Linked DNA regions of Homo sapiens: region 1 is linked to region 2. The links come from fine-mapping of genetic effects on gene expression. A gene starts in region 2. The other region holds a variant in brackets. All regions are shown on one strand. Distances are from middle to middle.

The links. PIP is the estimated chance that this variant, and not a neighbour inherited with it, causes the effect.
Region 1: its variant is the best candidate, but not a certain one, in a credible set for the expression of RARB in lung (TOPMed, PIP 0.83).

Annotation. Positions count from the first base shown.
Region 1 is chr3:25,483,466-25,491,860 of GRCh38, forward strand. The region is part of intron 2 of RARB (retinoic acid receptor beta); the gene reads left to right. Among named protein-coding and RNA genes, the nearest start is that of RARB, 59 kb to the left of the region's middle. The variant C/T (reference allele first, on the strand shown) is at 4,324.
Region 2 is chr3:25,423,821-25,432,215 of GRCh38, forward strand. It overlaps RARB (retinoic acid receptor beta), which reads left to right and starts at 4,443. Exons shown (of 8, transcript NM_000965.5): 1 at 4,443-5,068. The coding sequence starts at 4,912. RefSeq lists an enhancer at 3,504-4,341.

The DNA of each region.
Region 1 (8,395 bases), 60 kb after region 2:
TTGACCTCTAGACCCTGGTTTTCTAGATCAGAAAGTCATAAATTTTAAAATCATATTTCTTCTTTTTTTTTTTTTTTTTTTTCACTCAAAAAAAGAGAGTGTGTGGCTTTAGTTCCCATAGAGCTTCTGGTTCAGATGGTGCAAATGAAGCACTGGCTTTCTCAGCCTTGTTTTGGTAGCATAGGAAAACAAAACAAAACCCAGAGATAAGAGCAAGGGAGACTGGAGGATGTGATTATGAGTAAAACTTCTGGGTGCATAATGTCAGCAGCACAAACTGTGTTCATTCTCCATGTTAGTTAATGGCTAATCTAGAGATTGTACTGCCATTTGCTGATAGAGCACAGTTTAAAATATTTTATCATTAATGTGACAGGGAGTCGGATAAAGAAAATGAAGCGTGATTATAAAATGCTAATTATCGTTCTCAAGTGCATATTGGGCACTCACAAATATTTGCAGCGTAATTTGCTTTATTTATTATTTCAGTTTGGTTATAAATGTTAATTCAATTGCAGATGGTATGTTGGCAATTTACAGAGCTATAAAGTTATTTGGAAATCCTAATATTTTCTACCAAAATGTTCCGTTAGTGAAGGATGAGCTAAATTAAAAACTCCTGCTCTTTAGAGTTAAATACATTAATTGGCAAGTAGGCTGTAGGGATTTCCAGATCTGTGCTGGCTATGTTAACTCCTTAAAGGAGGGAAAGACATGATTTCTAATTTAGAGTGGGAATTTTCTTTATGAGAAAGGGCGAGGAGGAAAGAGGTGTCTTTTTCCTACCACCCTTGTAACATTTCTTCAAGGCTGAGGTTTTCTTCATGTCCTGGTTCATAGCAAAAGAGACATGCTTGAAGCCACATTTTTTCTGTAGTACATCAATAGTTTCTGAGACCGTGATGTTGATAATTAGGGTGTATGTGTACGTGTGTGCATGTGTGAGAGAGTGAGAAAGAGACCGTGTTTTCTCCAACCTCGCTGATTACTACAAAATATACATATGTTTTAGCCAGGGGTTGTCAAATTATGGCCCATAGGCTAAACCGGGTCTGCTGCCTGTTTTTGTATGGCCAAGAGCTAAGAATTTTTTTTTACATTTTAAATGCTTGAAAAAAAAATTAATATAACATATGAAAATTATATGAAATTCAATTTCAGTGTTTATAAAGTTTTCTTGGTACACAGCCAATCCATTCATTTCTGTATTGTCTATGATTGCTTTCATTCTGTGATGGTAGAGTTGAGTATTTGCAGCTAAGTCTCTGGCCCACAGCTTAAAGAGTTTCTATTTGGCCCTTTATAGAAATCTGCCAACCCCTGGATGAGGATATTTAAGGTGTAGTTTACAAAATGGAAGCTTTAACCTATTTTTTTTTTAACCTCCATTGTCATATTTATGGAAACACACGAATGCTGGAGTACAACTGGGTTTAAAACATGACTTTTCATTTTTGAAAGCTGGGAAGGTTATAAATATGAGTCTTAGCTTCCTTCATTTATAGTCATATTAATAATTGAAAGAAGTGATATTATATTACTAATGTAAATAATTTTGTGTTTCACACACACACGATACACTCAAAACACTCTCTTTGCCTCCAAAATAAGGATAAAAGTAAAAATTATTTTCTTTTACTGTCAAATTAAAAACATAAACTAAGCTGTGTTCCTGGAATATTCTATTTGTGTTAACAATTAGGAATTGTACATAGAAGCACAGTAATATCAGAAAATGTGGCCACCTTATATAACTCGTTTGGAAAAATGTCATTCTTTACTAAGAAATACTGTGCTTAATTAATTCTTGCTCCTAGGAGGTCAACTTGGGGCACTCATTATGGCCTTAATTGGTGATATAAATCCTCAGACCCCAGAGGAAAAACACATTGAGTGGTTAGTGGTCTCTGGCCTTTTGGGTGAGTGTGCACTGGTGCCAGCCTCATCTCAGAGAGTGACAGCTTCTGGTTTCATGGCTTCAGGTCTAGCCCCACTCATATTAGGTTTAAAGGCCAATGTGCAACAGCAAATAAATGCAATAACTTGTCCTGGTGTTTTGCATTAAACAGTGTGAGACAACCCACTACCTTCAGACTTGGAAAAATGTGTTTCTGTGAACTCCGGTTCTTTGTATTAAATTATATTCATTACACGGCCCATCTGGAGTCTCCTGCCAGGCCAAAAATCATCTTACAGACATTAGCAAAAGGAAGTTAAATGTAATTTTTTTTAATTGTATACTTTTCATTTCCATTTATTTTTTCCCTTTTATTGGAGAAAGCAGATGGAAAGGAAAGCAGGATCCTCTCTCACTCTGGTTCCCTTCGGGAACAGAGGCAGAGCATTCCTGGCTGCTGCTCCTCTCACACGTTGGCTTGAGGTGATGATGGGGCTGTCTAGATTCTGGGGATAATTGCTGGAAAGGTCAGGAGTTCAATTTGAAGCTCACACTGGTTGGGGTTGTGGAGTTTGGAGGGTAAGAACAGTGCAGTGGCTTACATTGGGCTTTCACTGAAGTGGGTTGCCACGAATTATATTTGACAGTGTGGAAATGAAACTCACAAATATCAGATATGATGCAGTTCCATTTTGTGTCTGGTTATTGACTTGAGTATTTTGCTGGGAGTTGTCTTTTTGCTGGATTTTGAGTCAATGCAAAAAGGGCCCATATTTGGGAGACTGGGCTTTCTTTAGCTCGTTGGATCTTACCAAACCAGCCATGTGTCACAAAAGGTATAGAGCTAAGGCTTATGTTGGAGACATGCTGAGTGTGTGTTCCTTTAATAAGACACGTGGAAATCTCAAATATCAGTGCTAGAAGGCATGTAGAGATCATTTCAGACTTGTGAAATGGAACTACAGAAATGGTTCAACTGTTTGCTTAGAGTACAAAGCCAGTTAAAGGAAGAAAGTAGACTAGCTTAGAGCCCTTTGGACTTCTACTTGGGTAGAGGTAGAAGTCACTTAAGCCACCCTACAGCCCTGGCAGAGGATATTTGGCCAACGAAGTCACTCTCCCATGCAACCTTCCACCCATCCATGTGAGCAAATACTTACTGAATGCCAGGCAAGGTGCTGGATTTGGTGCTGAGGATACAAAAAGCTAGAGTTATGACAGGTCTTCAACTTAATAAACTACATCAGAACAATTCTATAGTCATTATCTGTATATACCCTACCATCATCTGCCACTTCACCCAAATGAATTGCTAAGTTGCTGAGTTTGGAAGGGTCTTTTAAATTCGGATAATGGTGAGGTACTTTTTTGGCTACATTCTGATATATCCAGCACATATATGCATTTCCTGATGATGGTCTTCACGGACAATGGGAGAAGGGCTAATTTTGAATTTCTAATAATGAATCCTTGTATCCCTCTGTATAATTTTATTTCAATCAGGTTCCAGTCACAGATTATTAATTTTATTATCTAAGTATATTCTTCTTACTCTAAATATTTTTCTTAGATTAGGACAAGGTTTGGATTAGGTCAAGTATACCTATGATGACCTCTGATTTACATTGCTTTACAACACACCTGAGACTTGGAGAGGAGAGAGAGGAGGGATGCTGGACTAGTTCCCCTGCTCAGTCACACACTTTCTCTCCTTTTGTGCTGGGATGGTGATGTGAGGTGTCTGGTGTCCCTGATGCAGTCAGCTAACAGCTTCCTTAAGAAGCCTGGCCCTGTGCTACCCTCAGTCGCGTTTGACACAGTAATAGACACACATTACAGACGTAAATAGCAACTCCAGGTTTTCGCTTCCATGGAAGTGTGTTAAAGTTATGTCCACTAAATGGGTTACTTTGGCTTTAAATAATAGACCCCATTGCTTCTCTGTTCCTCAGCGTGCGATGTGGTTTCACCTACCACTCTCTGCTTTCAACAAAGCAGATAAGGTATCAACACAATTAAAAGTGAAAAATAATCTGTCTGCTTTGCCGGTAGTGAATGCTTACAGAACACACACTGATACAATAGATTTTAAATAATTTATGTCCGGCACTTTTTTTTTTTTTTTCAATCTGTAAATGAGGACACCTAATGCGGAATGGTCGGCATGATACTCTATCCTTCCCCCATTAAGATAACAAGATGAGAGGCAATGATTCAGATCAGTATATTTTTGGAGCTTTGAGCGGATAAAAATTAAAAATTAAAAGAGATGATGTTCTGAAATACTTTGGGTAAGCAAGCTCATAAAAGCCATTTGGAAACCTGAAATTACACATTAATTCAGAATCTCCTTCTGAGGGGCTCCTAAAACACCTTTCTGTTTTCTTGGCAGGATGAAAGCATTACTTTTGTGTCACTGCCTGGTG[C/T]TTTCACGGGGTCTATTCTAATGCTCACTAAGGCGTCATGCTCTGTTCTAATGTGCCTCTTGTAGCCATCTTTGGTTTGAACCAACTAAACTTCAGGTGATGTTGAAAACAAATAGGAATTAATACATGAAGCTTTATATCTTCCCTCTATAGATATGTTAAATCTCAAGTTACCAGGATAATGTGATTCATGGCTTATTTTCCAGCCTGGAGGGAGTGGTTGGTCCAATCTGGAGGGATTTATTCAGCTGCTATAACTACTGTTGACAGTATGGGGAATTGGCCCCACAATTCCCCAAAGTCTAGGGACTGTGCTATCCCACAGAAACAAAACTGCTAAGCTGTTAACAAGAGGTGGTTCAGATCTTTGGTGGTTAAATGTAGTTTAATCATGATTTACGGGGGCCCGGCTCTTTTTCCTACACCTGCCTGTGAACATCTCCTAATTATTCATTTGAGAAAACTCTGAATAAAAATATCAATCTTGAATATGTGTGTGTTCCGAGGAAGAAGGCCAGCCATGTCCAAGGAAATGTTCAGTCCTGTTTCATCTAAGGAAAATAATTCCCAAATTTCATCCACAGGCTGATGCTTAGGAGAGACTGAAGTGCTTTTGGATGAGTTCAAAATAAACACTCCCTCCTAAGTTATCTCTTTTGTCCTTCTGGAGAAAATGAGAAGGGTAAATGACGTTCCATGGAATGATCACCTGAGGAAAGCAAAATTAGGCTGAAACACCCCCAAAGCTCCTAGATGAGGCTTCCTGGCCTGGGGGCAGGGTCTGACACCCCATCTTTTGGAGTGGGTTATAGCATCAGGGACCACCATCCGTTAACAAGCCCATCCTGGGCAGCAGAAAGCTTTGTGGGCCAGATGGGAAGTAGCCACTGAGGAGAAAAATGTAATTTTGATACAGGAAATAGAAGAAGAACAGTACAGCTTTTCACTCAAGATATATGTTTCTTCTGTCTAAAGCCAGCAATTTTGGAAAATGAAGCTAAGAGTTTAAAAATAAGGGCTCTGTCAGGGAAAATAAAACAGGTCCCCCTACATCCATTAGGCTGCCTTTAATTGAAAACTGGAGAACAATCTAACTAATTGGCAGGTACCTCTTTTATTACGGAGACTGTTTTTCCCCTTCTCTCCAGTGTAATCAAAAGGCTGCTCCTCTTTTTATCAACTAAAGTCAGGTATGAAATGGAAAAGCAGAGAGGTAACACTTAAAAAATTAATTGTGTGTGTTCTGTTAAATGTTCTCCTACAAAACAACTTCAGAAAGTGCACAGCTTAAGGTCTTTGAAACAGCAGCAGCTCCAGGAGTGTATTTTCATATAGCATGGTGCTTAGGTGGAAGCTATAATGTGCTAATTGCAGACAAGTTCATGTTGTTTAAAAGAACTTTTTCTTTTGCATTGGGGACCTATTTAATTTCAAATCTTGGCACTGTGCTGACATAATATAGCTACTTTAATTTTAAGGATCAAGAAAGAGGAGCCTGTGGGTGAAATTTGAGCCTATTTTTTGCTAATTTGGAATAAATCAGTAAGTTAACATTGCTGCCTGAATTTATGATATTAGAGTTTTACCAATGAAAATATAACTTCCTTCTTCCTTTCCTTGCATATAAAGTATTTTGGTTTAAATTTACATTTCTTTGCTGATCTTCCTTTTCTTCCTTTTCCTTCTACATGGAATATCCATATGATATTATTCTTTAATTATAAAAGTTGCATATACTCCATCACAAAAAAAGATTGTTACATCCCTGCCTGCAAAGGACTCCGGTTTCAAAGAAGAAAGAGACACAAAGATCAATTGTTGCACTGTTGTAGAGAGAATGTTCCAACAGCATATGCTGGTAGTGGGGGCTTGGCGGGAGCCTGACCCCTCTTGGGGGCTGTATTTTGGAGCATGAGCAGTCCTGAACCAAAGAACAAGGCAGGGAAAGGACTTTCAAGTCCTAGGGCCTGTGGAAAGGCACTGAGCAGAGAGAAAACACTCTAGGTTTGGGGGGCCTGGGTAAGTATGACTGGACAAAGGCATGAGCAACTTTGAGGGGCAGGTGGGCTTTAAACCATTTCATTGCTGATCTCAGTGTGTAGAGGTCGATACTCTTAGCATTATCAGGCGTCAGCCTGGACTCACCACAGCTTTTCCATACAAGGACAGAATCCATTTTGAGAGCTGGAGCTTAAGTAATATTTTCTCAATAAACTTAGTGAGATTTTTGCACTGTCAGAGCAGTGTCTGTGGTGAAGAGAAGCAGAAGGCTACATCCAATAAATCCCTGTTATTTTTCAGTTGTCAGACTTGACTTAAATGTAAATGCCTGACTAGCTTTCCTTCTCCCATTCTCATAGACTCTATGAGTTTTTCCTTTTTACTCCAGGTTCGGGATGGAACCATGTATAAGCGAGAAAAATTCCAGTGAGAAGATTCCAACATGGCCCTGAAAATTAAATAGACTTGGAAAAAATGCACCAAGCTCTAGACAAGCATTTATTTTTCTGTACTAATTTAGGTCCTTAACATTATAAAGCAATACAAGTACATCATAATTATTTGGGTCTGTGAGAGGCCTTTGAATTATGCAATATGCAGCATCGCCATGGTGATGTGCCTTGCCGTCAACCAGCATGTTATGGTAGAGCCATGTTCTGGTTTTGTTAATGGCCAAATGTTGCATACCAAACTTCTAAAAGAGATTTTAAAATTCATGCTCTTTGGTAAAGGGTTTCAGTATATATGAGCATGTTTTGGCTCTCTCTCCTTCTGCTTACCTTTTTCTCCCCCGCTTCTCAGTACAGATGAGAAAATTTAATTTGGGTCCAGATGAGATTTAGTAATTAATGTACAAAGCAGCTGGGGTCCGCTAACTCCTGGGCTGTAGCTGAGCAGCTATTTTGTTGCATTTTTTTTTCAATAAAATAATTGAAAATTTAAAAACTTAAAATTCATTGGCTTCTTGCCGTGTTATACTTAGAGTAATCCTGATAATAGATCGGTAACTATGGATTTCACCAAGGAAGGGCACAAAATAACTGACCTAAGTAATTTAGAAAACAGATGTCTTTAGTTGGTTCAAATTCTCAGAACCAGATTTAAAGAAAGCATGTGGAGAAGAGCGAAATCTTGCATTTTAGAGGCTTCGTTTCCCCTTGTCATACAGTTTTTCTTCCTACCACATCTTAATTCAAACTCTTGAGAAGAGACAAAGTAGTCCGCAAGATATCATATTTATGATATTTAGCCTACTGCACAGAAATTCTTTGGGTAACTACTCAACCTCATACTCTTCACCTTCTTTTTAAGTCACCTTTATTTCAGTGGCTTCCAAGTAGTGGTCAGAGACACCTAGGGGATTTATAATGAACTTTAAGATATCCTCTTGAAACCGTGCGTAGATATGTGTGCTGTTTCGAAGGAAATTTTATCTAGTTTCAAAGAAGTTCTTTGTGTTCTTTTGGCTTCTCCCACTCCCCCTGCACCCCCACCCCCAAGTCCCTTTTACACTACAAAAATAAAGCCCAGTAGTAAAACATAAAACCCCTCCTGTAAGGTTTTTCTTTCTAGCTTTTACTCAGGTCGTGGAATTTCTCAGAGGCATCCCAAGGGGATCCTGTGGGAGAATGAGTGTGATTACAGTGAACTACTTAATTCTGTCTGATCTACAGTCTTTAAACATAAGGTCAACCAGAAGAGAAGAGAGACTATCCGAGACTATCCAAGACTGCCACGTCCTCATAAAGGAAAAAGAGATTGAACACTTTTGCTGTAGATGGTATTCTGTAGCCTGGACTGACTACATAATTTGCAGGACTTTATACAAAATGAAAATGCTTGTCTCTTATTCAAAAATTATTTAGGGCTGGGCGTGCGTGGTACCTCATGCCTGTAATCCCAACACTGTGGGAGACCGAGGCAGGCAAATCGTTCGAGGCCAGGAGTTCAAGTCCATCCTGGCCAACATGGTGAAACCCTGTGTCTACTAAAATTACAAAAATTAGCCAGGTGTGGTGGCAGGTGCCTGTGATCCTAGCTACTCGGAAGGCTGAGGCACAAGAATCGCTGG
Region 2 (8,395 bases):
ACAATGCCACCAGCAGTGACAGTCAGCTAAGAGATGGTTCGCAGCTCACTGCTCAGTACTGAGGCATTCAGCAGGGGTTGTATTTAACTTTCAAGTTGGAACCAACCGAAACTGTTGGGCTTGAAGAGCTGTCTTTATGAGTCATCGACGGCAGAAAGCACAGAAGCACTAAAGAAAATAATTCAGAAATGTGGAAAGAGAAAAGTATGCCCTTGTCTTGGGAGAACAATATTTGTGTGTAACCAAGTAGGAAGACTTTGTGGAGGAAAGTCTGAAAAAGCAGAGAGCTGAAGAGAAAAGAGCCAAATGAAGGACACGGTGGCCAACACTCAAAGTAAAAAGACATTTTTGAAGAAGATGTGTTTCTAGGGTTTCTAAGAAGTCGCTATACTCATGCCCAGAGCCACCTTGCAAGTTCATTTGGAAAGTGCATTGGTGTCTTTTGGTATAAGATCCACGAACATCAACAGTCCTGTTATGTGAGCAGGTGTTCATACTGAAGGGCCACAAGCAAAGTTTCCATGTGTTATTACTGTTAGAACTTCCCCCGCTCCCTTCCAACACAAAAGCAGCTCTGCCTGCTAGTATGGAAGCCCTGGGAAGAGCCTCATACTTGCCTCGTGCTGCCAACATCTCTGCCTTGGCTTCCCTGCTGGAACACACAAGTCACTCAGTACTAGCCATTTATTCTTCTGGCAGAACTGTGGCAAGAGGGGATTAACAGGGAAAAAAAATTAAAAAACAAACAAAAAGCCAAAACAACATGAAAGAGCTGGGCATGTCTTTAAAACAATCAGTGTCCACCTCCCCCAGCCCTGTGCCTGTGTCTGCCTGCACTTTGCATGTCTGCCCCTGTGGTGGGGGGGGATATGTCTGCGCCTCTGAAAATCTTCTTATTTAGACATCACAAGGTATTAGCCCAATTTTGAACACAGCCGGCTGCAGTACGGTGCACAGACACGACTGCTCTTTCTTCAGAAAACTCTCCAGTTCAAACATGTTTGCAGAGCATGATTCATGGTGTTTCTTTCTGGATTGTCCAGTGGGTAATTGCTGTACGAAAACCAGAGAAACAGATGTAGACCCTGAACCCTGGCTATAAATTTTTGTTTTATGATTATGGGTTTCAAATGTGCTGTGTCACACTGACAAATATACAGTTACTCTGAAACAAAATGGATTTTACTCTCAAAGTTTTGCTTTTTGTTTTTCACTTTTTGTTTGCTTGTTGGTTGGAAATACATTTATTAGATCATTGATCAAACACAAAGAAAATAGAGATGACACATATCAGAATGTTATTTTATGCCATAACAAGAAGATATTTGGGAAAGTTTCTTCCAACCCTGTGGCTAATGTTTAAAATGGGTGTCAGTAGTTTACATTTCATTACGGACAAATCGGTCTATTTTTCACTTTCTACCCTACTCATTAATCTTTATAGTGCACGGATCTGTATTTAAAGAATTATGGCTTATTTATGTATCTTTCCTTCATTTTACTTAAAATGAAGAATTTGGAGACAGAATCAAGTTTTCAAGAAGTGTAAGCATTTACTGATGAAGAAATAATTAGCATGTGGCTAAATCATGGGTCTGTTTTATAAATTAATACTTGGATTAAGTAATAGCTCTAATTATTGCTATCAGCATAATTAATTCATGATGAGGAATGATTAATTGACTAGCGAATATTGTCATATTATAAGAAACCCATACTATTCCTTTCATGGGGATTTAAATACTGATTATTCATTTCAAGGCCCAAGTTCATTTCTCAGTTGAGAACTTCAAGGTAATTATATATTTTACATTTTCTTGCACAAAGAAAGAAAACATCGAGTCGCCCAACCTTTACCACACACAGAGAGAGACACACTAATGTTGTTATTTTTGTGCAATGATACAGTATAGAGGTAAGAAATTCGGAAGCAGTGGTCTCGCTCAATGAGGCTGATTCCATAGCTTAAGAAATGAGAATGAACAGAATTTTGAGGACACCCATCCCCATCTTCACTTCCCTGGGACCAGTGCATCTCTACTCTTTGGAGAGATGTTAAGCAAGAATGTGCAGCAGCCTCCCCTGGATAACAGATCCCTGTACACACATACCTGTCAGTGATGCCATGTTTCTCATCTCTAACTTAAGTTTCTCCTGCTCTACTTCCAATATAGCTGTTTCCTCTTCTCTTGTCTAACAACTTTTCATCCACCTCCACTGTCCGGTAAAAATGAACTCAGTTTCCAAGGAACTCTAAGGACCTTAAATAAGCATTTGGAGCCATAAGCCTCATGGACCAAGTAGAAATTGGCACATAATGTAGTGCTTTGTGTATCTTTACAACTACCTTAATGACAGTGTGTTAAATGTTTTGTAAATTCCTCTGTGTTCTCTTGCTTAAAATGTGTGTTTTCTTTGTAGTTAAAGGGTTTCTTACAATAAGTCTCTGTTACAAAATGATGGCCATATAAAAGAGAGAAGAGAGGCGCAAAAATAACAAACACAGATTCAGCAAAAATCTCACCCCTTTATTGCCCTGAACTTTTCAATAGCAAGAACTGAGCTTGCTGGGCTGAAAATTGTTTTAATGTACCTTCATAAAAGGATCTTTGACTTGGTAAGTGTGTGCGATGCATACTTTTCATGTTACACCACAAGTGCCACTTAGCAACTCCACTAGACAGGGCAGTGTTTCAGCATGGGGTGGGGTGCCCCCTGACAGGCTTTTAAAAGGCCCGGATGCCAATGCACATTCCAACACTATCCACAAAAAGGAGACTGGAGCAGTGCTCTTCCCTGCATTGGGCAAGGAGACTCTCCCTCCCTGCCTAACCACTTGCCTGCCCTGTTTTGTGGGAGAATTACAAGTAAATGCTACAGAGGCAGTGGAGAAAAAAGGGTGTTTTAATTCCTCTCCAGAGTTTCCTTTATTTGATGTATGTTGCATCCTTTAAACAAGTTGTGCAAAATGGCTGCAGGGTAGATTGGCTCTCCCTTTTAAAGCTCTCCATCCGGCTGGGTTTATTTGTAAATACTGCATCTATCCTTCTTAGTGTTTTAGGACTGGCTGGAAAGACTCTTCTTCCTGTAGGTTGGGTCAGTGTGAGAGATCTAAAAAATCATTTTCCCTTAAAATTACTGTATTTTAATAAAAGGATTGGGCAGGGGCTGGAATGAGAGAAAACTGGTCCTTCAAAATGTAAAACTGTCATACTTAAACCAGTTTACAAAATATGCGTTTAATTATGTGGTGGGATGTGTGTAGGTGTATGATGAGAGAGGCAACCAACATGGCTATTTGGGGTGCAAGGATGTGGGAACAGGCAAGTAATTTTCACATTGGACTTTCATCCTAGGGAGCTGGGTTCTAGTCACAGCTCTGAGCTGTGTGACCTTGGGTAGGTCTCATCTCCCCGGGGTTTTGTTTCACCAGTTGAACAGTATGAGGATGAGTCACAGCTAACATTTGTTCCATGATATTTACCCAGCACCATACAAGTGTTATTTCTGTCCTCCCAGTTAACACTGACGTGGGTAGTATTATATGCCCATTTTACAGATGAGGAAACTGAAGCCTGAAGAAGTTAAATACTTATCCCAGAACACACAGCTGGTAAGTGGCAGACCTGGAATTGGAATCTAGTTCAGTTTGATTCCCCAACCCATGCTCTTGACCACTATACTGTTTTTTCAAGTCCAGATCTGAAATCTCATTTTCTGTGTGGCTGTGTGTTTGGGACAGGGGTAACCAATTCCTGACTACTCTATATGCTGCATAGAACCTGGAGAGGATTTTTCAAAGTAAATGAATCTCGAAAGCTGGATTGCAGAGCAAACGAGTGCAGTCAATTCAGCCAGGGGCTTGCAAGAGGGAGAAAGAGAAAAAGACTGTGGAATGGAAAGTTTCCCAACCCAAGCCTTTCCCAAGGGGTAGCCATTCTCTGTTCTACAGTTTAGGGCTTGCATGTGCTTTTTCTGGAGTGGAAAAATACATAAGTTATAAGGAATTTAACAGACAGAAAGGCGCACAGAGGAATTTAAAGTGTGGGCTGGGGGGCGAGGCGGTGGGCGGGAGGCGAGCGGGCGCAGGCGGAACACCGTTTTCCAAGCTAAGCCGCCGCAAATAAAAAGGCGTAAAGGGAGAGAAGTTGGTGCTCAACGTGAGCCAGGAGCAGCGTCCCGGCTCCTCCCCTGCTCATTTTAAAAGCACTTCTTGTATTGTTTTTAAGGTGAGAAATAGGAAAGAAAACGCCGGCTTGTGCGCTCGCTGCCTGCCTCTCTGGCTGTCTGCTTTTGCAGGGCTGCTGGGAGTTTTTAAGCTCTGTGAGAATCCTGGGAGTTGGTGATGTCAGACTAGTTGGGTCATTTGAAGGTTAGCAGCCCGGGTAGGGTTCACCGAAAGTTCACTCGCATATATTAGGCAATTCAATCTTTCATTCTGTGTGACAGAAGTAGTAGGAAGTGAGCTGTTCAGAGGCAGGAGGGTCTATTCTTTGCCAAAGGGGGGACCAGAATTCCCCCATGCGAGCTGTTTGAGGACTGGGATGCCGAGAACGCGAGCGATCCGAGCAGGGTTTGTCTGGGCACCGTCGGGGTAGGATCCGGAACGCATTCGGAAGGCTTTTTGCAAGCATTTACTTGGAAGGAGAACTTGGGATCTTTCTGGGAACCCCCCGCCCCGGCTGGATTGGCCGAGCAAGCCTGGAAAATGGTAAATGATCATTTGGATCAATTACAGGCTTTTAGCTGGCTTGTCTGTCATAATTCATGATTCGGGGCTGGGAAAAAGACCAACAGCCTACGTGCCAAAAAAGGGGCAGAGTTTGATGGAGTTGGGTGGACTTTTCTATGCCATTTGCCTCCACACCTAGAGGATAAGCACTTTTGCAGACATTCAGTGCAAGGGAGATCATGTTTGACTGTATGGATGTTCTGTCAGTGAGTCCTGGGCAAATCCTGGATTTCTACACTGCGAGTCCGTCTTCCTGCATGCTCCAGGAGAAAGCTCTCAAAGCATGCTTCAGTGGATTGACCCAAACCGAATGGCAGCATCGGCACACTGCTCAATGTAGGTTTATTTTTTTCCCTTCTTCTACCAAGAAAAAAAAAATTGTCTCTCTTGCATGCAATAAAGACGTTGGAAATAAACTGCATTGGTAGCAAGACAAAGGATTTAATGATTTAATGCTGAAGGGGTGTGATATGCTGGCATGCATATTGATTCCCTTTGCTGAAAATTTCCTGTTAGATGTTTTCTTCCCAAATAACCCCTCCCGCCCCCATGCTCCTCTCCTTACCAACCTTATAGTCTCTTGAAAACAGTTTTTAAAATATGCATAAAAATGTGGGGGGTGGGGAGTAGAGGGTGACCACAAGACTTTAAAACATTCTTCAAGTAGGGCAATTTGACACATTTTGCAGTTTTTACTAAAATGTATGCAGAGTGGAATTTAACTTTGCTGTTCTTTGGATTAGCTACTAGTTGTATAGGTCCCCCCACCCCTTGTGTATTCCAACAGTCCAAAGTAATTAAAATATGACATTTTCCTTGAAAGGAATTTAGTTTAATTAAGGTGGCTGCTGCTCCCGAAGTTCATAAACCACCAGTTCAAGCTGCCGCTTCCAATGTTTTCCTTGCTAAGGAAAGGCAATATTTCTTAGCATTGACCCTGCTGCCACCTTTCCAAGTCACTTTGTTGGTCTAAGAAGTTGCTGTTTTGCTAGAAAACTACTGGCAATGAACACCCCTTGGACTGAGCCATCCATTATTTCCATATCTTGCAGTTCAGCCCGGAACGTGGACATCAGTTAAAGGAAAGGAAATATAAGTGGGGTAGCCCAATTTAAAAAAAAAATATTGACTATTTTGTTATCTGATGCTGACACAGTGCCGAGGTACGCACCTGGTCAACAGTAGCCTGGCTGCAGGCTTGAGAAATGATCAGGAGTCCCAGAAAATCCCACCTTCGGGTGGCTGTAGTGGGAGCCTGCAGGATGCTTCGCCGCCCTGACAGTGATTTAGATAAATGGCTCAGCTATCTATCAAAATGTTTTTAGTACTTTATTTGACAATTCATTGGAGCATTAGCCTGAAAATGACATTTTAAATCTTTGTTTTCAAAGAGGTCAAAGTTTAACTGGAAGAAATTGAGTTTTCCTAATAACATGGTGGCTTATCTAAAGAGAGAAGAAAAAGGGGAGAGGGGACAATGACAGGATTTAAATTGCCCTCTCTGAAACTTTTTCTTAAGAATAAAGACTTGCTTCTTGGGCCGGGAAATCAACAGGTTTGTAGCTGAAAAATCAATAACCATTTGATGCCAACAGCCTGGCTGTCTGACTTAACATTTTGTAGAGCCATAAGCAGGGCAAAAAGAATATCGTTTTCAGAAGGCGCCTTAATCTTCAGCTGCTCCCCAAATGCCTTTTCTTTTTTGGTGCCCATTTTATTTCTGGAGAACTCAAAGAAACTGGAGTGTTACAAAATAATTTTCTAATCCAAGAAGAGACTTTTCAGACCTGTCCTCTTTGTAGCAATTAAAACAGTATGAACAATTTCTGTTGGAATCCCAGGGAACTGGGGCTCTCTGAAACTTTTTCTTGTTAGAGAAAGTGGTAATGAAACATGTTTTTTAACAGAAGGAAAAAATATGCTCAGGATCCTCGCCAAAAGTTATTAGACCTAATAGAGTTTTTACATGTAGACATTCTTCCTTTTGTAATTAACCTTCCAAAGATGCCTATTAAGTTGTAAGAGTAGGGGGAAAAGCTTTGTTTGTTCTTGGACAAGTTAAACAAGGGATTTGCTTTATCTAGGGAGAGCGAGCGGTGAATGTGTCATTCGCCTAAAACTACCCGATAAGCAAGAAGTGTTGATAACAGCAAAGTTTAGCTAATCAAAGAAACTTGCATTAGACAAAGTAAATAAAGGCATTTGACAAAGGGATTTCAGAAATTCCAGTGTCTTATTTTTGTAAGCAGGGCAATTAGTTCTTATTGTGGTCAGTTTCACAAGAGTTTGAATCCCACACCCCAACTTTAGGTTAAATGAATAAAATGTAAATATTGCTTGTGCCCTTGCAGAGTTGCTTTACCCTCATAAACCACTTTATGATGGTCAGTTGTTCCAACGATTTTTTTTTTTTTTTAGCATAAATAAAACTAAAACTTTTTTTTTTTTTTTTTTTTAGAGATTCTAACAAATGTCTTGTGCCATGCAGTGTTTGGTTCAGGGTGGTACAGCTAGTTAGGGCTATTGAAATAAAAGTATATTAGGGCTACATTTGTGTAAGTAAGAACATAACCACAACCTTTTCCATTTTACTTAATGGCTATTTTGACGAGAAGCAGATCTGTTTTTGCTTTTAACACAGAGGAAACAGTGGGCAAAGAAGAAAAAGTACTAAATTCCAACCAAAACTATTTTCTGCTTTGAGTTTTTTTTATGGTGTGTGTGTGTATGCATAGTAAATAAAGTAAGACCTTTGAACATGGAGCACACCATCACAAGCTCACTTTGAAAGGTGTTAAAATATTCCCTTTATTTTCTTTTTAATTTTAAAGGCAGAAAAATGATATGCCAGCCAGCTGCCATTTGTAGTAGTGTCTGTGAATTGCTTCTTATAAGCATTCAAAGTCAGGATTAGGGGACTACTAAGGGAATGTGGTCTAAATATTACGATTGACGACTGCCCCTGGAAGGTATAGGAGTCACTAAATTTCTGTTCAGATGTCTCCAGGATTATCTTGGTTTTAGGCGGCTCCAGATGTTTTCAACATTAATTGCTCAGTGGGTATAGGATAAATCTTAATATTTTGTGGTCTAAATATAGTTGCTTTGGTGAAATAACGAGTGTGACAACTTCTTGGCCTTTTTCCCTGTCTTTTCTCCCTACTCAACACATCAAAAGGAAAAAGAAAAAAATATTTTCTTTTTGAAATAGGACTTTGCCCATTAATGAGAAGAAATTATTTTTAAAACAACCAGTAGTGATGTTTGATTAGGGAATGAGAAAAGGCCTCTTTTCAAAGCCCTGGGACCCAAATTTTAAGTATTAAACAGTATCTAAATCCTCTCCTAGTGAGATATAAATTGGGGTCAAAGTGGCAAAATCAAAGATACCCTCTGAAAGAAAGACTAAATAAAGACTGACAGCCACCGTATGAATTGAATGGGGTTTTGAATAAATATTTCAGTGAAAAGGCCCAATTGTTTTTCTAAAGTAGGACATAATTTTCTGCTTCTCGGGCACATGACGGTGGTAACTAATACCATCAGAAAGAAGAGAAAAAGAGGGACTTTTCCTTAAATCGCAAAGAGAGTACAGGCAGGGTTGTGGGTTGTTCGAAAACAAGTGAAAGATTCACAAAGTTTTCCTTCCTTGTAGAAAAAAAG